Regions from separate parts of the Homo sapiens genome. Here all the other regions are reported to be linked to region 1. The links are microRNA targets in miRTarBase. Many come from high-throughput screens and were not tested one by one. Region 1 holds a microRNA gene; each other region holds the end of a gene's coding sequence. Distances are between the middles of the regions.

Region 1 (7,904 bases):
CTGCAAGTGCGCTAGGACTGGAGCATTTTTTGCTCCAGTTTCACCTTCAGCAAGCGCTATATGGTAATCGTGTGCTGGCAGCCAGCCTGTCTCAGGGCAGCTTCTCTTAGAAGAAAAGAACCAGCATGGTTTTCTTGGTGTGAGGAATTCATCTGACTTATATTTGAGATTTCCATTTTAGATTTATAAACTTTATATTTTACATTTTGACTCTCACCAGAATTTATAAACTTGTCTAAATGAAAAAGGCTACCTTTTTACTGGTGCACCAAAAATAAGTCTTTTTAAATGGGTGAGGTATAGTCTCTGAGCCTTCTCTTCTCATGCACATGTTCAGCAGCTTGAGGCTCACACAGCAAGGGCTGGAGCTGGGCAAGGGCCAGTCCTATCCTCGGAATGTGCAGGGTTTCAACAGCCCAAGCCTGCCAGGCTTGTTCACTTGGTTATTGATTCATTTCAGTGCTCCTTTATTTATTTATTTTTTTAGACTAAAATAGTTTTAATAAGGAAATAGTTTTCTTCCTTCCCTTCTCCCATGTTGTGGATTGATACCCAGAAAGGAACCCTTGTTAGCAAGCAGCGGAGCTAGGATTAGAAGAATCATGTCTGCCTGTTTTTTCCAGGGTGCTGTATTTTCCTACTGTGATTCTTAAAGTCTTTTCAAAATGGATAAACATTTCTTGTGATACTATTGTAAGGTTTAAAAATCTGCTTAAGTTAGTGATCCATGCTGCTTGCTTTTTGTGTGCCGTTAATGTGTTCCCAGAACGGGGAGCTGGGCTTGGACAGGAGTAGTCCCTCGGGAGATGTCCATAAAAGTTGATGCAGCTGAGCTCTTTCCATCCTGTCCTGGGTTGCTGTGTGCATTGCATTCTCTCAGAATCCTTCTTTCCTCTCCTCAGTGCCCTGAGGTACGGCTGAACATCATCTCTAACCTGGACTGTGTGAACGAGGTGATTGGCATCCGGCAGCTGTCCCAGTCCCTGCTCCCTGCCATTGTGGAGCTGGCTGAGGACGCCAAGTGGCGGGTGCGGCTGGCCATCATTGAGTACATGCCCCTCCTGGCTGGACAGCTGGTGAGTGAGGAGGCCTGGGGGCCAGGCAGTGCTGCCTCAGGGGAGGTGCAGTATGTCCAGGGCTGTGATGGGGAAACGGGGCTTTGAAGGCTTAGTGGAGGCTGTGACAACTGCCTGGGGAGTCGAAGGAAGGGACCCAGGAAATAGGGCCTTAAAAGATGCATTGGATTCAATAAGAGAGAGGAGGGAAAGGAGCACCTCAGACAAAGTTGAGAAGTGTCCGGTCTTTCTAGGGTGGGTGTAGGTTCCATGGGATGTGGCTAGCAGCTCCCCCTGTTTGCTCTCCTGGAACGCTTACCTTGGAACCCTTGGTTTCTCCTGTAGGGAGTGGAGTTCTTTGATGAGAAACTTAACTCCTTGTGCATGGCCTGGCTTGTGGATCATGGTGAGTACCTTCACAGGAGCAGCAAGAGGAGATGGGAGCTCCAGAAAGGCAGGATGGATTGGCTGGGGCTGTGGCGGGCAGTGGAGGAGGCTAGAGTCACTCCCCACGCCGCTGGATGCTCGTATGGACCAGCTCGCATGCTTGTTAGAGTCCTAGAGAAGTGTTGAGTGGGAGGAGGACGAAACAGATCACCCAGGGGTTGCCTGGTATAGTGGAGAGCCAGAGGGCCACTGAGCAGCCAGACCAGGGTTTTGAATCCTGCCCTTGGGGCTGTCAGATCTAAAACAAGTCACCTGCTGTCTTTGAATGAGCCCCACACTCATTCTTTGAAACTTCTTATTCTGGTGCCTTGGGGCCATTATGAGAATGGCTCATTGTTTACACTAAGAGAGGTAAAAAATAAAAGGTAATATTTATCTCTGTGAAGCCCTGTTTGAAGTAATAAGTGCCACATAATTTAGGCAAATCACTTCTTAGAGCCTTAGTTTGCCCATCTGTAAAATGAAGCCAGTAGTGGAACCTACCTCTTGGAGTGGTTGAAAAGATACTGTATAAAAAAAAACAGTTACTAGATATAGCACATAGTAAGTCCTTTTTTCTCTCTTTGGCTCACATGCAGCCTGGCACCTAGGGGCTGCTTTGTAAGCCATGGTGAGTGTGACCTACATTTTGCCCACATCAGTTCTTCACCTCCAAATCCCTGTCTCTCTCACCCTCACCCTTCTGCAGTATATGCCATCCGCGAGGCAGCCACCAGCAACCTGAAGAAGCTAGTGGAAAAGTTTGGGAAGGAGTGGGCCCATGCCACAATCATCCCCAAGGTCTTGGCCATGTCCGGAGACCCCAACTACCTGCACCGCATGACTACGCTCTTCTGCATCAATGTGAGCCTTCCACCTGCCTGCTGGCCCATCCCTAGGGAACTGGAGCGCGTGGGAGAGGAGGGATGCTAGAGGGTTCCCCAAGGGAGACACCTGGCTTGGGAATGGAGACATGGAGTGCATCTTCTATCCAGAGATGAGTCCTTGGGGAACTGCAGGCAAGGGGGTGGGGCTCCCAGGGTCAGGGTCATAGGGCCTCTGGGACTGGGGACTTGGATGGTGAGGGACCCAGGGCCTGGGAGACTTGACCTGTTGGAGCAGCGATCTCAAGCTTTATGAGCACCCCTCTCCTTCCCTGAGAAATGTGTGTCTCTATCTGTGGTGCGTTGGGTGAGTGTATGGGCTCTAGGTCAGACCTAGTTTTAAATTCTGGTACTGCCATATATTAGCTATGGACCTTGGATAGTTACCTAACCGATGCTTTGGTCTTCTCATTTGTAAATAATTCATACTGTAAAGAATTCATACTGGTAATCACAGCCTGGTGAGCGTGAAGATTAATCAGGTTATACACGCACAGGGCTTAGAACAGTTATGCTACAGGTAGGAAGTGCTCCTGTCTATTTGCTTTTCCTACGATTATAATTATCTCATGTACTACTTATTTATGTGTAAACCATACACAGGGCTAGAAAGGAAGGGATTTAAAAATAAATATAACTAAGTGTTCTGATCATTTCTTCCCACGCCACTCTCTGGAGAGCATTGCTTTAAGGAGGGATCCTAGGGCTTGGTAATTAAGGTCGATCTCCAGAATAATTAAGGGAAGCCTGAGGACAGAGAAACTGGGACATGGTGTTAGGATGGTGTTAGTGGAGTTGGGAGATTCACTCCACTAACTGAGTCACCCGTATTGCTCAGCCTCTGTGGGGCCTGATGATCACCAGAGTGGCCTGGTCAGAGGCAGCAGGAAATGAGAGTTAGCCAGGAGCTTTGCATACTCACCCCTGCCACTCACTGGCCCCCAGGTGCTGTCTGAGGTCTGTGGGCAGGACATCACCACCAAGCACATGCTACCCACGGTTCTGCGCATGGCTGGGGACCCGGTTGCCAATGTCCGCTTCAATGTGGCCAAGTCTCTGCAGAAGATAGGGCCCATCCTGGACAACAGGTGAGGTCTGGATACTCCCCCACACACTGGCAGGGGCTTCTTGTGGGCACCTTAATCTTTGACCTTTGAAGGTAGAGCCCAGGGTCAGAGGCCTGGCAGCGCTCCTTGCTTGCTGTGTGACCTTGGCTCCCTTCCCTTCTCAAGGTGTGTTTTCTCAACTGTAAAATGAACATCACAGCATGAAATAGAAAGAGGGGGTGATGGGTTGGCAGTCCTGTATACTAGCAACAAGTCATTAGAAAATGAAATCACCTTATGTTTTATATGTAAGTATGTGTATAATTTATAATTGCACCAAAAATATCAAATAGCCAGGAATAAATTCAATGAAAGATGTGTATGTAACACCTCTAATGTAAACTGTAAAACACTAATGTGAGAAATTAAAGCAGACCTGACCAAGGTGGGCGGATCAGTTGAGGTCAGGAGTTCACGACCAGCCTGGCCAACATGGCGAAACCCCGTCTCTAGTAAAAATACAAAAAATTAGCCGGTGCGGTAGCACTCACCTGTAATCCTAGCTATTTGGGAGGCTGAAGGCAAGAGAATTGCTTGAATCCAGGAGGTGGAGGTTGCAGTGAGCTGAGATCATGCCACTGCACTCCAGCCTGGGCGATAGAGCGAGACTGTCTCAAAAAAAATTAAAGCAGACCTACATAATATTCACGGATGGGACAGTTCCCTGAACTCATCTTTAGATTCAGTATAAGCCCAATAATCTTAACAGGTTCTTTAGTGGAAAATTGACACTTCTAATGAACAAAGTTGTCTGATTTACACTACCAGAGACGAAGACTTATGACACCACAATAATTAAAATAGATGTGAACACAAGCATATTTAAATCGCCCAATAGAATGGAATCAAGGGTACAGAAACAGTCCCACATGTGTTTAACAGTAGGCATCTCTGCAGTTCAGTGGAGAAATGTATGTTTTTTAAAAAACATAGCTGAGTCAATTTGATATCCATTTAGGAATAAAAGAAGGCTCGCCTCAATGCATAAACAAATTAATTTGAGATGACAGACCAGAACCAGAAAGATTTTAAAAATAAAGGACCTAGAAGAAAATGTAGGAAAATATCTTCTTGAGTTAGCGTAGGCACAGATTTGTTAAACAGCAAACCAGAGGAAGTGATGGGTAAGTTGACCTTCTGTAAAATGTAACGCTGTTTCTCAAAAGACAGCATTTTGAGAGTAAAATGCAAGCCACTGACTGGAGGAAGATGTTTTAATATATGTTTCTGAGAAAGGACTCATCCACAATACCTGTCTACAAATCAGGCAAGACAAGAAAGAGATGGGGAAAAAGACTTGAATAGGCACTTGAAAAAGGATCTCCAAATAGCCAGTAAGCATATGACAAGGGTGTTCAGCATCATTAGCCTTCAGGAAAATGCAAATTAAATCTCAGTGACATATGACTACACGCCTCCCAGAACAGCCAACATTAAAAAAGACTCAGTGGTGCAAATGGTGAAGACATAGAAGAGCTGGAACTCTCATCCATTGCACGTGGGGCTGTACATTTAGGGTTTGATCACTCTGAAAACGGGAGTGGATCTGGAGTGGAATTTGGTGAAGCTTGTTATACAAACAGCCTGTGAAACAGCCCTTCCACTCCTGGGTCTCTATCCAGGAGAAATGAGTGCTGTTTCTGTCAGAAGAATGTTCATGGTAGCTTTATTCATAGTAGCCGTAAAAATGGAAACAACCTCCATGTCTGTCCACAGTAGAGTAGATAAATTTTAGTTCATTCAAACAGTGGAAAACTATTCAGCAGTGACGAAACAAATGCCTGCTATAAGCAGCAACAGGTGACTCTCACAGATACCATGTTGAGTGAGGAGCCAAAATCAAGAAAACACACCATTTATGTCAAGTTCAGAAACAGGCAGAATGAAGGAATCGAGATGATGGAAGTAAGAATAGTGGTTATTTGGGGAGAACAGGGAACTGTCAACTGAAAGTGTGGGACCCACAACTGCAGATTTCTCTTTCTGTCTGTTCCAGGACACAACCTCAGCTTTAGTTTCTCTCCGAAGTCCCCCTCCGTTTTCCAAAACAATTGACTCTTGGTGCAGGCGGATTTCCCTGGGCCCCATAGATGAGAGTGGATGCCTCCTCTGGGCTCCTGGAGGACCAGGAACTTCCCCTTGGGGCCACTTACCACTCCCCTCTTACGTACCAGTTTGGTCTCTTCCTCCTGGCCCGGGTGCCTCATGGCAGAAATCAAGAGTGATTTAGCTCTGTATTCACTCCTAATACATTGTAGGCCTCAGTGAATATGTGTGAAATCAATGAAAGATACCCATTTGCTGGGCCTCAGAGACTTGGGGGTTCTGAGATTCTGTTCCACTTTCCCAGCCTGCTCTGATCTCCCTGTTTGGGGCCCCAGTCCTTGTTTATCATACTTCTGACCTTTAAGTAATTGGTTGGTTGGTTGGTTTTTTGCAGTTTGTTTGGTTTTCCTTTGAGGCAGAATCTCGCTCTGTCGCCCAGACTGGAGTACAGTGGTGCGATCTCGGCTCACTGCAACCTCTGCCTCCTGGGTTCAGGCAGTTCTTGTGCCTCAGCCTTTCAAGTAGCTGGGATTACAAGTGTGCACCACCATGCTTGGCTAATTTTTGTACTTTGAGTAGAGATGGGGGTTTTCCCATGTTGTCCAGGCTGGTCTTGAACTCCTGGCCTCAAGTGGTCTGCCCACCTTGGCGTCCCAAAGTGCTAGGATTACAGGCTTGAGCCCCCGTGCTCGGCCTTGAGTTTACCTTTTTTTTTTTTTTTTTTTTTTTGAGACGGAGTTTCGCTCTTGTTGCCCAGGCTGGAGTGCAATGATGCAATCTTGGCTCACCACAACCTCCGCCTCCCAGGTTCCAGCAATTCTCCTGCCTCAGCCTCCCAAGTAGCTGGGATCACAGGCGTGCACCACCACGCCCTGCTAATTTTGTGTTTTTAGTAGGGACAGGGTTTCTCCATGTTGGTTTGGCCAGGCTGGTCTCAAACTCCCAACCTCAGATGATCCACCCACCTTGGCCTCCCAAAATGCTGGGATTACAGATGTGAGCCACCACGTCCGGCCTGATTTTACTTTTAATTGACTCATAATTTTATATATTTATGGGGGTATAGTAGTGTTTCAATAATGTGTGCAAATGTGTAATGATCAAATTAGGATAATTAGCATATCTATCACCTTAAATGTTTACTGTTTCTTTGTGATGAGAACATTCAAAATCTTCTCTTATAGCTGTTTTGAAATATGCAAAATGTTATTATTAACTATGGTCACCCGCCTGTGCAGTGATCAGAGATTTCTAATTCCTGTGTGTGCCCTGGATTCTTGAGACTCCTCCCACCTTGGGTTTGGTGTATCCGTGTCTGTGTACACTCTCTTGCCCAAGAGCCCTGTGCCCACCTGTTGCCCCAGTCCATCCTGGCTCACCCTCTCTCTCCCTGTCTCCTTTCGCTTTCCAGCACCTTGCAGAGTGAAGTCAAGCCCATCCTAGAGAAGCTGACCCAGGACCAGGATGTGGACGTCAAATACTTTGCCCAGGAGGCTCTGACTGGTAAGACCTAGAAAGCACGGAGCCCTAGCAGGAGGGTGGACTTTGAGGACAGGCACTGGGCCTGTGGGCAGCAGCTTCTGGGAGGGGGAGGTACCTTGGCATTGTGGGCAGAGAGAGGGCTCTGGTTCTGATTCTTGCCTGTTCCTGTTTTCCTAGTTCTGTCTCTCGCCTGATGCTGGAAGAGGAGCAAACACTGGCCTCTGGTGTCCACCCTCCAACCCCCACAAGTCCCTCTTTGGGGAGACACTGGGGGGCCTTTGGCTGTCACTCCCTGTGCATGGTCTGACCCCAGGCCCCTTCCCCCAGCACGGTTCCTCCTCTCCCCAGCCTGGGAAGATGTCTCACTGTCCACCTCCCAACGGGCTAGGGGAGCACGGGGTTGGACAGGACAGTGACCTTGGGAGGAAGGGGCTACTCCGCCCACGTCAGGGAGAGATGTGAGCATCCCGGGTCACTGGATCCTGCTGCTGTAATGGGAACCCCTCCCCCATTTACTTCTCCACCTCCCGTCCTCCCCATCATTGGTTTTTTTTTGTGTGTCAACTGTGCCGTTTTTATTTTATTCCTTTTATTTTCCCCCTTTTCACAGAGAAATAAAGGTCTAGAAGTAGTTGGTCCTCTGGCCTTAGTCATCAGCTTGGAGGAGGGGGCACCACCCCAGAGCCACAACATCTGCGCTTTTCTCTGGAGAAGATCTTGTTACAGGACCCATTATACCCCTATGTCCCGAAAGAATACTCTGGGGATCCCCCCAGGAGTGCTGCTGGCCTTTGGGGTAGAGGGTCCATGAGGTGCTCTGGGTGGTGTCCTGTAGTGCAGTTCAGATTCATAGATGTCGGCCGAGTATTTGGGGGGTTAAGAGCAGGTGCCTTGGAACCAGACTG
Region 2 (7,000 bases), 12 Mb from region 1:
CTCAGGGTCAAACAGAAAAGGGAGGCTGGTACACAACATCCCCTCTCTTCCCTTGTCGCAGAGAGCAGAGATCTTTGCTTGTTCTCAGTCTTAGGGGAAAGCATTTAACCTTTTGCCATAAAGTAGGAAGTTAGCGGTCCATGTTTTGTAGATACGCTTTATCAGGTTAAGGAAGCTTCTTTCCCTAGTTTGCTGTGAGTTTTTTGTTTTCTTGTTTTTGAGAGATGCGGGTCTCACTATGTTGCCCAGGCTGGCCTCAAACTCCTGGCCTCAAGCGATCCTCCTGCCTTGGCCTCCCAAAGTGCTGACATTACAGGCATGAGCCACTGTGCCTGGCCTGCTGTGAGTTATTTTCTTTCTTTTTTTTAATTTTTCTTTTGTTTTTTTTTTTTTAGGCAGAGTTTTCGCTCTTTCACCCAGGCTGGAGCAAAGTGGCACAATCTCGGCTCACTGCAACCTTCGCCCCCTGGGTTCAAGAGATTCTCCTGCCTCAGCCTCCCGAGTAGCTGGGATTACAGGCGCCTACCACCACACCCAGCTAATTTTTGTATTTTACACTTGATCTTAGCCAAAAGGCCAAGAAGCAATAATTTTGTATTTTTAGCAGAGATGGGGGTTTCGCCATGTTGGCCAGGCTGGTCTTGAACTCCTGACCTCAGGTAATCCACCCGCCTTGGCCTCTCAAACTGTTGCGGTTACAGGCATGAGTCACCACACCTGGACTGTTGTGAATTCTTATCACGAATGGTGTGTCTCTCTGTGTGTCTCTATCTTTGTGTCTCTCTGTTCTTCTGTTTCTCTCTGTCCTTATTCTTTGTCTCTCTTTCCTAGTTTCTTTCTGTCTCATTCTGTCTGTGCGTTTCTCTCTCCCTCTCTCTCTGTCATGCTTTCCCTCACCCAAGGGGGTGTGGCCACGGGAAGCTAAGTTGGGGGTGGCCCCAGTGTCCTGGTTCCGGCTGTGGCCACCGCAGTAAACACAGGACATCCTGTGAGGCTAGGGAAGGAGGTGGACGCTTCTTCTCAGGGACCACCCTCTCCAGACTCAGTCTGAGCCAAGCAGGAGCCTTGGCCTGCCCTGCGTGGCCTAGCCACTCCGCCCCACCCAGTCCAGCCAAGGGACACTGGTGTCTCCCTCGATCCCACCGTTCACGCCCACCCCCACACCCCAGTCCTCTCTCCTGAGCTCCCGGCCCAGGGCCCGGGCAGCTCCATGCCTTCCCCTGGGTGTCTCCCCAGCCTCTTGCACCCCCTGGGTCCCTCCTTGGCCTCAGCCCCAACCCCAGACTTGCTTCTCTCCCCAGTTGCCATCTCAGGGATGGCCCCAGTGTCTCCCAGTCCCCTGATTAGAGCCCTGAGCCTGGTCTGAGACCCCTCCTCCAGGCCTTGTCAGTCCCACAGCCTGTCTGCTGGGCCTCCTGAGTGCCTCTTCCCTCCCAACAGCTGCTCCGTCCCTCCCCAGATTCTCCACCCCTGGGATCCTGGGCTCCTGGCCTCCAGTGTCACCTCCCCGACGATGCCACCCACCTAGTGAAGGGATCCTTTTACTTCATGACTCCCCAGCATCTTCAGAGTTAAGTCCCCCATCCAGGGTCCTATATGCCCTGGCCCCTGCGGACCCTTCCAGTCTTGTCATTTACCTTACTGCTTTCCTCCTCCTTCCAGCCAAACCCAGCAGCTTAGAGATCCCTGAAAATGTTGTAGGGTCTCTCTCTCAGTGACCCTTGCTGTTTCCTTGCCCACCAGAACAATAGTTCTTTGGGGCAGATACTGTTACTGTTCCAGTTTACAGGTGAGGACCCCGAGGCTCAGAGAAGTTAAGTACCTTGCCTAGAGTCACACAGCCACAGAGCGGTAACTCTTTTTTCTTTTCTTTTCTTTTCTTTTCTTTTCTTTCTTCCTTTCTTTTCTTTCTTTCTTCCTTTCTTTCTTTTCTTTCTTCCTTTCTTTCTTTCCCTTCCTTCCTTTTTTCTTCTCTCTCTTTCCTTTCTTTCTTCCTTCCTTCCTCTCTCTCCCTTCCTTCCCTCCCTCCTTCCTTCCCTCCTGCCTTCCTTCCTTCCGTCCTTCCTTCTTTCTTTCTGACAGGGTCTTGTTCTGTCACCCAGGCTGGAGTGCAGTGGTGCAATCATGGCTCATTGCAGCCTCAAACTCCTGGCCTCAAGTGATCTTCTCACCTCAACCTCCTGAGTAGCTGGGACTACAGGCGTGAGCCGTCGCATCTGGCCAAAGCTGGGGTTCAAACCCAGGCAGTCTGGCTTTCAGGAACAGTCTCTTCTCTCCAGCTTACTGCTTCAATAATATCTCTGTTAGATTTCTAAAGTGTGCCGGGACTGCATACCATAGGTGCTCAATAAGTGTTTTTTAATTTTGTTTGGTTTGGTTTTTTTGAGATGGAGTCTCGCTCTGTCGCCAGGCTGGAGTGCAGCAGCACAATCTCGGCTCACTGCAACCTCCGCCTCCCGGGTTCAAGTGATTCTCCTGCCTCAGCCTCCTGAGTAGCTGGGATTACAGGCCCGCCACCTTGCCCAGATAATTTTTGTATTTTTAGTAGAAATGGGGTTTCACCATGTTGGCCAGGATGGTCTCAATCTCTTGACCTTGTGATCCACCTGCCTCGGCCTCCCAAAATGCTGGGATTACAGGCGTGAACCACCATGCCCGGCCACTCAATAAGTGTCTAATGAATAGGGACAGAGGTAGAAGGTGAGCCTTGGAAAGTACAGAATTCAGACCCCAGAGAAGTGGGGTAATAAGGGCCCAGGGGCAGGGGAGAGATGTGGTCAGATTTACCCTTTACATAGGGATAGGCACACAGTAGGTGTGTGCTCATAAATTTTTGCTGAATGAAGGACAGGAAGAAGGGAGGGAGGAAAAAGAGACAAGATAGCTGGTCACAGCTCTTCCAGGTGTGAGAGAGAGAGAGAGAGTGTGTGTGTGTGTGTGTGTGTGTGTGTGTGTTTTGGGGGTGGTCTGTGAATGCCATGGAGGAAAGCTGGCCTAGGGGGCGTCATGGCGAGCATACACAGAGGCTCTGTGAAAGGTGGCAGTTGTGCCAGGGCTGGCGGCTCAGCTAGGAATGGTGTGGGCCCTGGAGTCTGCTGGCCAAGGTGGTGTGGCCTCCTGGGGTTGAGCCTGAGGGTGGAGCAGCACACCAGAGCCAGGGAGCCTGCACAACCCATCTGGGGGTGACACATGGGGAGAGAGGGGCAGGTCCTCACACATGAGCCATTCATAAACCTGAGGGCACCGGGCAGACGGGACCAGGGCTGATGTAGCCCATATGGTGCTTTTGTGTAAAAGACATGCCCCTTCCTGGAGGTACTTGACCTCCATCTGCTGGGAAACTTGTAATAAATATGTAAATGCAGGGTACCTGGAACACCAGTGGCAGCCCCTTACATACGGAGCCTATATGCAGTGCACAACCTATGCAACTGTACCTAGAGGCTCTGGGGAGAGGGGCCATCAGTGGCAAAGCAGGCACAGGGGCAGACGGAAGGATCAGCTCACCCCATATTGGGCCTCGGAGACATCAGAAACAGGTCCTTAGCTGGGCACAGTGGTTTGTGCCTATAGTCCCAGCCACTCTGAGGGCTGAAGCCAGAGGATCCTTTGAGCCTAGGAGTTCAAGGCTGTACAGCACTATGATCACTCCTCTGTACAGACAGTGCTCTCCAGCCTGGACAACACAGTGAGACCCAATCTCTTTGAAAAAGCGGGGAAAGGAAAGAATAAGAAACAGGCCCACGGGAATCCCAGCACTTTGGGAGGCTGAGGTGGAAGGATTGCTTGAGCCTGGGGGTTCGAGACCAGCCTGGACAACATAGGGCAACACTGTCTCTACAAAAAATTTAAAAAATCGGCCGGGCATGGTGGCTCACGCCTGTAATCCCAGCACTTTGGGAGGCTGAGGCAGGGCGGATCACTTGATATCAGGAGTTCAAGACTAGCCTGGCGAACATGGTGAAACTCTGTCTCTACTAAAAATACAAAAAATTAGCCGGGCATGGTGGCAGGCGCCTGTAATCCCAGCTACTCGGGAGGCTGAGGCAGAATTGCTTGAACCCAGGAGGCAGGGGCTGCAGTGAGCCGAGATTGCACCATTGCACTCCAGCCTGGGCGACAGAGCGAGAATCCATCTCAAAAAATAATAAATAAATAAATAAATAAAAATAAGAATAAAAATAAAATCAGTTGGGCGTGGTGGCGTGCACCTGTAACCCCAGCTAATTGGGAGGCTGACGCGGGAGGATTGCTGAAGCCCAGGAATTCGAGGCTATAGTGAGCTATGATCGCGCCACTGCACTCTCCAGCCTGGGCGACAAAGCGAGACCCCGTCTCTAAAAAAAAAAAAAAAAGAAAAAGAAAAGAAAGAAACAGGCCCGCAGAGTGTTGTAAACAGAGGGCGTTCATGATCCCTCGACCACTGGACAGATGTCCGGGGAACCCAAGACGGCGGCACCGCAGAGCCCGACTGGGCACCAGGGGGCGGTGCTGAGCTCAGCCCAGGCGCCCAAGTTTTGAGTCTGCGGCAAAGCAGTCCGAGTCCCATTTGCCCGGGGCTGGAGTCACTCGGGGTTGGAGTCAGGCGCCTGGAAGACCCTCAGCCTGGACGACAGCTCCCCGCAGGCCATTTTCACCCGCTTCCGCGGCCCGCCTCATCCACTTCCAGAAATGGGCACAACTTCCTCTGCTCCTCCAGGAAGCGCCACTCTGCCCGCCCCTTCCCGGCCCCTGGGGCCGACCCAGGCTCCCCATCTGGCCCAGCTCCACTCCTGCCTCTGCCTCCCCGAGGCTTCTGGCCAGAAGCGAGGCTCTGGGACCCCACGATGGCGGCGTTTCCCTCACTCAAGGCCCCGCTGGCCCCTCGGGTCACCGTCCAGCCCCCTGCGCCTCTCTCCATGCGCACCCGCAGTTTTCACGGTGACACTCCCTCCCCTCCGTGCACCCCCCCTCAGGCTCCGCCCTGTCCCTGCGGCCGTCAGGAAGGACGCAGCCTGGGTCCCGTGCCAGGCCGCTGAGTGTGCGGCCCCTCCCAGCCAGGCCTGGAATGCGGCTGGACCGCGGGGGCGGCCGCTGACACCCGGCGCTCCAGCCAGGCCCAGCACACGGGCAGGTGGCCCCAGCTCGTCCGGGTCTGGGTTTCTTCTAGAAGGAAGGCACAGCTGCCTGCCCTGAGCTCCCTCTCTGCAGTCCAGCTACCAAGCCTAGTGGCTTTATTTCAGACACAGCTCCAAGCGTCCCTATCCTTTGCCCAGAGATTTAAGACCAGGAGTGAATTTTATTTTTAAAAATGGGCTGTTGTCCCCCTTTCCTCCCCCATTTTCCTGGAGAGCCGACTCTCAGGGCTCCTTGGAGAGGATCTGTCCAGGGTCCAGGTTTTGTGTTTTTATTTCGGGACCATTCTGAAAGCAATCTCCCCTTCGCTCCTCAATAAATACAGGTAGACTCCAGGCGAGGACTTGCTTTCATTTTTAAAAAGTTGCCTTGACTTCCTGCTAGCAAAGAAAAGAAATAAAATTTAAGAAAAAAAAAAAAAGGCCAGGCACAGTGGCTCACGCCTGTAATCCCAGCACTTTGGGAGGCTGAGGCAGGCAGATCACGAGGTCAGAAGATGAAGACCATCCTGGCTAACACGGTGAAACCCTGTCTCTACAAAAAATATAAAAAATTAGTCGGTCCCAGCTAATTGGGAGGCCGAGGCAGGAGAATCGTTTGAACCTGGGAGGTGGAGGTTGCAGTGAGCCGAAGTCACGCCACTGCACTCCAGCCTGGGCGACAGAGTAAGAATCTGTCTTAAAAAAAAAAGAAAGAAAAAAAAAAAGTGGCCTGGTAGGAGGATCGCTTGAGCCCAGGAGTTTGAGGCTGTAGTGAGCCATGATCAGACCACTGTACTTCAACCTGGGTGACAGAGCGAGACCCTATCTCAAAAAAAAAAAAAAAAAAGTTCATAATTTAAAACCCACCTCAAGTGATAATCTTGGAACCTTGGTTTTCTCACCTGTAAAATAGGGATGATAATACTACCGATCTTGTAGGGCTGTTATAGGATTAAATGAGTTAACACAGTGACGTGCTTAGAAACTGTGCCTCGTACACAGCCTACGCCCAATAAAATGTTTGATGTTTTTATCTCGCCTTCACATTTGCCCAGAGACAAAGCAGCACACGGATTTGAGATTTCCCAGGACTGGCTTTAATTTGAAAAATCTGATTGGGGTCTCTTCCCGTATCAGAGAAGGAACAGCCCAAGCTATGACCCCAGGGCCAGGGAATTCAGTCCCCACCAGACCCTGTCATTCCATCACTAGGGGGTAATTCCAGGCTCCCCCTGCCAGCCCTGAGACAGGAGGACGGATGTGAAGTTGCCCAGGACTAGATTCTGTCTCTCCAAAGTGGCCCAAGCCCTGTTCTCTGTACTAGGGAAGCCAGCTGTGTCTTTTCGAGGACAGTTGGTCCAGCCAGCAGGCTCAGTTCAGATACCAGACAACCATTCCAGCACGAGGGCTCAGCGCCCTGGCCCCGGCGGTCGCTCCAGTGCCTGTGTGCCCACCAGCACATCCATGAGGTAGTCCAATTCGGCCTCGTCCAGCTCCGGAGCTTCCTCCTTGCCCGGCCCATCCTCAGGGCCTGGTTTGAGGCCCTCAGAGGCTGGTGCCCAAAGTTCATTGTCATACATAGAGGTGTCAATATCCTCAAACAGGCCCTCAAGCCCATCGTCCAGTAGACAGCCAGTGGCTGGGCCCAGCAGGTCCAAGGCACCCAGGCTGGGCGCTGCTCCCCCGATGCTACGGCCTGGTGGCCCCTCGTCTGCCAAGGGTTGGGGAGCCTGACTCAGGCCCTCAATGTGGCTGAGGTCCTCCAGGAGGCTGGCCATGGAGGCTGAAAGGGCAGCGTCCGAGCTTGCCAGTAAGTTGTCAGCCACACTGGGGGCTGCAGGTGGGCTAGGCACAGGTGGCAGGGCAGCCGCGGGTGCCATGGACGCCTGGATGCGCCGCAGAGT
Region 3 (7,000 bases), not on the chromosome of region 1:
CTGTCTACAATAAGACACAGGTGAGGGACAAAGGTGGGTTGGGTGTATAGGTTTTTGAGAGGTTACAGCCCAACCTGACCTTCACCATTGTCTTCTTTGCCCTGTAGACTTTTGACAAGCAGGGATTTCATGCAGGGACGCCTCCACCTTTCAGCCTGCCCTCGGTCTTGGGCTCCACTGGGCCCCTGGCCTCGGGAGCGGCCCCTGGCTATGCACCCCCACCATTCCTACACATCTTGCCAGCCCACCAGCAGCCCCACTCACAGCTGCTGCACCACCACCTTCCGCAGGATGCACAGGTGAGTACAGTGATGGAGGCAGCCACCCTACTCTGGGCCAGGGGTTCTGCTCCAGCCTTGACAGCCTTCCCTTCTCCTCTTCCTCAGAGTGGCTCGGGTCAGCGCAGCCAGCCCAGCTCCCTGCAGCCCAAGTCTCAAGCCTCCAAACCTGCCTACGGCAACTCTCCATACTGGACAAACTAAACCCAGAAGAGAGGGGTGGGCTGGGGCAAGGCTTATCCTGGGCAGGAGAGAACACACGAGCACGTATTTGGGAGCCCAGTGCCCTTTCCTAGAATTCCCGACATGTGTCAGCCATGCCTCTGTGGGGAGTCTGCCTCCCAGACTGGCTACTGTATGTAATGTATTTATGTATGTATTTGTAAATGTGATAGAAGTCTGGGGGGGAGTTGGGGGATGGCGGCAGATGTTAGCCAGGTCTGCCCTCCCCATTCAAGCCCCTTCTCCACTGTAGCAAAATAAGCACCCCCACCCCATCTGCCTTCAGGTCTTCTTCACAGCCTGCACTGCCCAGTGGGCCACTAGGGGCAGTCTCTGGAAGGGCTGGTTCAAGGCTGTTTGGGTATAGGGGTCAGGTACCAATGAAGAATCACGACTTGTCTCACTCCTTTGGAAATTGTTTTCTTTCCTGTGTAATTACTTCATACCTCTGTTTTTGAGAAACTGTTCCGTTTGTCATCTGTCATGGTCTCCTTCCACCAAATCTTCATCTGGGAATAGCAGCGGTATCCCTCCACCCAAGTATGGCCACCTGTTTGTCTTCATATAGAACAGGGGCTTCTGGTCTGGTCATGTCCCTAGAGACTTACTAGAGACTGGCTGACCATGAAAAAAAAAAAAATAATCTGAGTTATTCAGCCAGTCAGCTCCCCTTTAAAAATCTAAGGTATCTCCAAGCAACACATCTCCATTCTAGTTGTCTTGAACCACGTGGGCAACTGTTTCAGGGGTTTTCTCTTGCCCAATCCCCACCTAATAAAGTTCTGAGAGCATGCATGGTCTCTGTGTGGTGTGACTGAAGGGCAGCTCAGGGCAGAAGCCCTGGACTTCACAGGGCTAAAGGAGATCCCACATGGTCATAGTCTTCTGACACAGGCTATAAAGGCTTGAAATGGTTTTCCTTTTTACTGGACCCTCTTGGCCCAAATCACAATGGCTGTAAGGACAGCTAAACCTCCTTACAGGGCCCAGGCCATGTTGATCAAAGTTAACCTGGCTTTTCTTATAGCTCCTTAAGAGACTTAGGGATAGGGCAGTGTCCCACAGAGCCCTGTCCACTGGATACCAGGGCAGGGTAATTTCTTTTCCAAATCTCAGTGGACTTTTACAATCTGAAGCAAAGCCAAGAACTGAGAGCAGGGTTCTAGGCCTTAAGGGAGAGTATGAACAGGTATACCTGTCTTTTGCTTGTCATCAACTGAACATAATCTTGATTGGCAGTCAAAAGCTATGGTAGAACACGTGACTAGTGAGGGTGTCATGAGGTAGGCTGGTGGATCCGGGGCTACATATCTGCTCCAGAAAAGCCCAACCAACCATTCACCTTGTGTCAGGTCAGAAGCCAGGGAGTAACCAAGGGCCATAGGAAGGAGGCAGATCTCCTGTTGGCCAACCACAACTGTGCTCCAATCCAGCAGGCAGGAAGCTCAGGGCCTAGAAGTGTTGCCCAAGGTGCTACAGCCTCTCTTTTCACTCCTAAATCGCTGCTTCAGATCAGGTTAAAGGAGGAAATAAAATGGCTAGTCAGGTGATTGATTGATTGATTGTGTCAGAACCAGCCTGGGGTCACAATCTACTTTTTCTGCTTTTGGCCTCTACAATTGAGAGCGATGGTCCTGTCATCAGATGGGACCGATACTCCTATTAACCCACAGCTTGGGACCTTACCTAGAAAAAAGGTAAGTGTCTACAGGTAAAATTAGGACTTTTATTAAATAGGGTGATCTGCCTGATCCCTGCTATTAGCAGCAGTAAGTTAGGAAAACAAATGACAGTGAAAATGTTTGCCTAAGGAAAGCAGCAGAGCACCCCTCAATCCTTCACTGACCTACTTGTATCAGCTCCCGTTTTCAGAATCAAGTTTAACAAATGGCTACGTCTATAAGGAGCTTGAAGGGACTGGGGATACACCAGGGAGGTGAGTTAGTTAGAAAGGCAGATTCCCCAGTTTTGGTTTTTGTCTAATTTTTCAGCTGAGCCCCAGCGTAATCTGCAAACTTAACAGTGATAATGAGACCACCTTTTAGTTTTCTTTAACACAAGGTAAAAAAAGAAGAGGGTCATTTCATGGGGAAGTAGCAATACAGGTATTTTATTTCACATTTTATTAGTAGACAGATGGGCAGAAAAAGACAAAATAAACCACTAAAGGGGAAGTCAACACAAAATCCGTCAGATAATCTTTTCTCATAAGTTAAACTGAAGCAAAACATCTACAATTTCAGCTAAAACTATTAAAGTCAGGTGTGTCCTGCTGGTTTCAGAATAGTTGAAAATTGCATCTGAATCCTTTTAGTTGTAAATGTAAACCTTGTTTGTTTTATCAGGATGGGAGGGGTGGAGAGTTCCTTTCCAGTGGAGAGCTGCACATTTCCCCTTCCAATCAGTTTCTTACAACATGTGCCCCAAACGTAAGGAAACCAGCAAGTAAAGAAGCAATTTGCCAGGGTAAGGGAAAGAAGGTTCTACAAAAAAGTTTGACTAATAGAAAATAACTCTGGAATGATTGATAAAAGGAGAAGGGGGGAAGACTGAAAGAATCAACAGCAGAATCATATACTTCTCCACCCAGCCTCAAAATACACAGAACTGAAGAGCATCTAGTGAGGCCTCAATTAGAACTAAAAGGAATCTAAAAATGCAGGATTTTGAGTTCATGTCACATCAAATAATAAGCAAAACTGTACGTACATGGTTCCGGATTGAGCCTGAGACCTCCACTCCCAGAAGGGGGAAAAAAAATTACAAACTCAAGTATTTTCCACAGGGATGTGTTCTCAGGGACAGAGCTCTGGAACCAGCCTCTGGGTTTCGTTCAGTCAGTCTAAAATACCAGAATGTCCACCTGCTAGCAAGAGACTTACCCAGTCTTCTGGAACTGATTGTACTCATCAGAGGCAAACCCAGCCCTTGACACTTTTAACACCCCAAAGGGCTGAAAGGTACAACCTCCACTTGGCGCTCCGGCTCCCTGAGTCAATGTCTAACAGAGGCCAATAGGGCCTGATGGAACAGCTGTGCAGCAGAGCACCTCCCGCAATGCCAGGGTGCTGGGGCTGCCCTGGGAGTGAGATGCTTTAGCAAAGGGGAATGAAAGGCTTAATTTTAGGGCTCCAAGAGAATAAGACCAAGCTACTGGCTGTAAACTTGCATGGGGGTTTGGGGGCATTTTGGGGGAGGTAAATCAGCACTGTGAGAGGCTTTGGCTCCACAAGATTTGCAGGTTAATCTGGAAGCATTACTTACAAAGTATGGGGAGTAAAAAGGTAGTTCCAACATCTATGAGAGTTTGTAATCAGGTAACTTGACAATGTATTACGAAGCTGCTCTGTTCCATGGATCTGACTAAAATCACTAGATTCTGGGTGCAAGTAGCAACCCTGGCCCTGTGGAGATCACAGATTCTGGGACCAGGCTCAACAGTGTCCCCTAAGAGCCTTGCTTGTTAAACAGTCCCATTTCATACCAGACCAAACTTTAGAGGCTGGGAAGGGCTGCTGGGACCAAACTTTAGAGGCCGGGAAGGGCTGCTGGGAAGAAGTCATGTGTTTGGGAGTTTGAAGAGTGAAAACCCTGAGATCAGAATGGAAGGAGGAGCTAAGGAAGTAAGCGTCACCTACTCTGGCCATCCTAGGATCCCTCCTGCCCCGTCCCTAATCTGCCCTTTGGTTCTTTCTGAGTTACGAGCCAAAGGAGGAGTTGACACTAGTGCCCAGGGGTCTGAAATAGGACTACAGTCAGTCCTTGCTGCATTTTCCTTCTGAAATCTGATTTTACATTATAGCGGTTTCCTCCAAATAATGCCCTCCTATGATCTGGTGCACCCCCATAACAACCAAAAATTACCTTCAAGTTCTGAAGTCTCCTGGATGGTGAAGGCTGCTGGATCTCAATATTGATTGAAGCAACACGATTGAGATCTGGAAAATCAAAGCTGCAGCAAGTGCATTGCAGGAAGATCTAGCCTTATCTGGCCTAAAAACTGCCTGCAGTCAACTCCCTCAGCCCTGCCACAATTTCTATGCATAATTCTGCTTGCACTCCACAGCCTAAGTATGTTGAAAGGAGAAAAAAAGTTCAGATCACATCCAATGAAGAAGGCGGTAACTCGTCTCACACACATCCAAGTTTTTCACTATCAGTATAAGCAGCTCGATGAAAACCGAAATCTTAACACATGCACCTAGGATTAATACTGAGTAATTAAAAGTGGCTACTTAAAAAACAAAAACAAAACGTCATGGTACGAGTGTATTTTTGATGGGAAGGCCATGCTAAATCTATAAAACAGATGTTTCCTCTCCCAACAGTGGTCACCAGTAGTTTCAACTTTTTCCCCCCAGTAGCATCAACCAAACTTAGCATAGTGATTTTTAACTCTTTGCTCCCACACGCACTCATCCCAACTTCCCCGCTTGCCCCACTCCCTGGGGGGAAATAACCCTGCCTTTAAAATAAATAGCAACCAAGTGCTCAGTTCTATGGAAAGTATGAATATTTATTTCAGGCTTTCGATCCCAATCGATTTCAAAAAACAAAGTCTGATTTCTCTCCTCAGAGCAGCTGAGGCCTCCATGTTACGATGGTTTCATGGAGATTGAAGGAGCACATTTCATCAGGCTTAGCACAAAGTCCCTGATGCCCACCATGTCCCAGCCTTAGGAAAGGAAAGAAACAGAATTCACCACCATGGGGCTGAACGAATGCACACACACTAATGTAAATGAGCAGCTAAACCTTGGCAAATTTGTTTTTTTTTTTTTTTAAAGTTTGTTTTGTGGGTTTTTTTCCATTTTCTTTTGCTACCCAGTATATGCAGCACTTGTGAACTCCCAACAGGTTCCCAGCTTTAAACACATTAAACATCTTGAAAGACTATTGAATTCTTCAAGAATCTAAAAACAGACCAAACGTGTTTTGCTGTGAACATTCTGTAGAGACGAAGTGAGGCGGGAGTTTGGGTTCATATTTTTTAAAAAAAGAATCAATATAGTGATGGAAGGGTAAAGAATGCAAGAATTCAGACATTCTGTGGAGGGTTACTCTCTCTCCATTAAAGGTCCATAAAAAGGAGCAAACTGAGATCCATAAGGGGAGTCAGCAGGAGCTGTGTGTGTTTCCCCACCCGCTGTGAATAGGTTTTTGCTGAGGGGCCATGGCCAGGTCCCCACTTGCTCCCCTCCCTTTGGCCTGAGATGGCAGGGCAGTACAGGGGCACTGAAGGAGCACGTCACGACTCCTCATTCCCAGAATCATCATCATCATAACAGTCGGCATCTTCCTCCTCCTCATCTTCATCATCAATGTCGTCATCATACAAGTCGTCGTAAAGCAAATCTGAGCTGTTGTCATTGGAAGGCACTTTAGTTTTGATGCAGTATTCCGCCAGGGTTGTGGGGACCTTCACTCCATCCTTTTCTGCTTCGGCCTTAGTGGCTGAAACTTGTTTCCTGAAGGGAGGTTGACACAGAAATGGTTTACGGTAAGTCTTTTTTTAAGACAGATTTATAATTGGCCTTAAATAATCAATATTACTTATGACTCAGCTCTCCAAACTTCAGTACCTGCCTGAAAGCATCTGACAGATACCCTGTACTACACCAAATGCTTTCAACCCACTGGGTACAATTTTGAAGTAAACTTTGACTTTTTAGGAGGGGAAATACACTGTTAATATCAAGGGAGTTTAAAGCAGTGGATCAATTATAGCCAGAATCACCTCGTCAACTGGCTGTCCTCCGATTCATGTAAGGGCCAATAGGTCGGCGACTTAAGAATCAGAACAGGTATTGACTTAGTGGGCGGAATGTCATGCTTTGTTGTTTGCATGTGTGAAGCACAGGGATAACTGCCAGAATAAGAATAGATAATAGAAGGGCTAATACGCCTCCTAGTTTCTTGGGGCTAGATCATAAAGGTTGCATATGTGAATAAAACGTCCCACTCTGGTTTAATGTGGGGTGGGGTGCTTAGGGGATTGGCTAGGGTTTTGGCCTAGTCACCTCACCACCAAACTCAAGTGCCCCAACAATTCTTAATTTAATTATCCTCTTAATTTTCACTGACAGTAAAATTCAAATGCCTATGCCAGATTCCAGTGTCTTGCACGACCCACTCTTCCCCACCCAAGACGGAGTCTTGCTCTGTCACCCAGGCTGGAGTGCAGCGGCGTGATCTCGGCCCACTGCAACCTCCATCTCCCAGGTTCAAGCAATTCTCCTGCCTCAGCCTCCCAAGTAGCTGAGATTACAGGCTCCCGCCACCCCACCGGGCTAAATTTTGTATTTTTAGTAGAGATGGGGTTTCACCATGTTGGCCAGGCTGGTCTCGAACTCCTGGCCTCATGATCTGCCCACCTCGGCTTCCCAAAGTGTTGGGATTACAGGCATGAGCCACTGCACCCGGCCACATGACCCACTCTTGTATTTTCTCCAGCCCTTCAACACATTCACCCTGGTCTTTTTTTGGCATCTCGGACACAC

The links. The annotated mature microRNA hsa-miR-6801-5p reads UGGUCAGAGGCAGCAGGAAAUGA and lies in region 1 at 3,237-3,259, shown strand. An mRNA with a match to its seed (bases 2 to 7 or 8) in the 3' UTR can be bound and repressed. Matches are read on the target gene's strand: a 7mer-m8 pairs with bases 2 to 8, a 7mer-A1 pairs with bases 2 to 7 and ends in A, and an 8mer does both.
Region 2: the mRNA of SERTAD1 is a reported target of hsa-miR-6801-5p. Seed matches in the 3' UTR shown: 7mer-m8 at 5,603-5,609.
Region 3: the mRNA of UBAP2 is a reported target of hsa-miR-6801-5p. Seed matches in the 3' UTR shown: 7mer-A1 at 1,119-1,125.

What each region holds. Positions count from the first base shown.
Region 1 is chr19:52,218,789-52,226,692 of GRCh38, forward strand. It overlaps MIR6801 (microRNA 6801), which reads left to right and starts at 3,232; the gene lies at 3,232-3,310. It overlaps PPP2R1A (protein phosphatase 2 scaffold subunit Aalpha), which reads left to right. Exons shown (of 15, transcript NM_014225.6): 10 at 903-1,076; 11 at 1,401-1,461; 12 at 2,191-2,345; 13 at 3,311-3,453; 14 at 6,929-7,020; 15 at 7,177-7,904. The coding sequence ends at 7,193. RefSeq lists an enhancer at 2,772-3,971.
Region 2 is chr19:40,416,331-40,423,330 of GRCh38, forward strand. SERTAD1 (SERTA domain containing 1) reads right to left here. Exons shown (of 2, transcript NM_013376.4): 2 at 5,259-7,000. The coding sequence ends at 6,506. Among named protein-coding and RNA genes, the nearest start is that of SERTAD1, 6.2 kb to the right of the region's middle. RefSeq lists enhancers at 4,363-4,863, 4,529-4,648 and a silencer at 4,939-5,028.
Region 3 is chr9:33,915,986-33,922,985 of GRCh38, reverse strand. It overlaps UBAP2 (ubiquitin associated protein 2), which reads left to right. Exons shown (of 29, transcript NM_001370062.2): 27 at 1-20; 28 at 108-299; 29 at 387-1,293. The coding sequence ends at 482. UBE2R2 (ubiquitin conjugating enzyme E2 R2) reads right to left here. Exons shown (of 5, transcript NM_017811.4): 5 at 2,587-5,968. The coding sequence ends at 5,749. Among named protein-coding and RNA genes, the nearest start is that of SNORD121B, 15 kb to the left of the region's middle.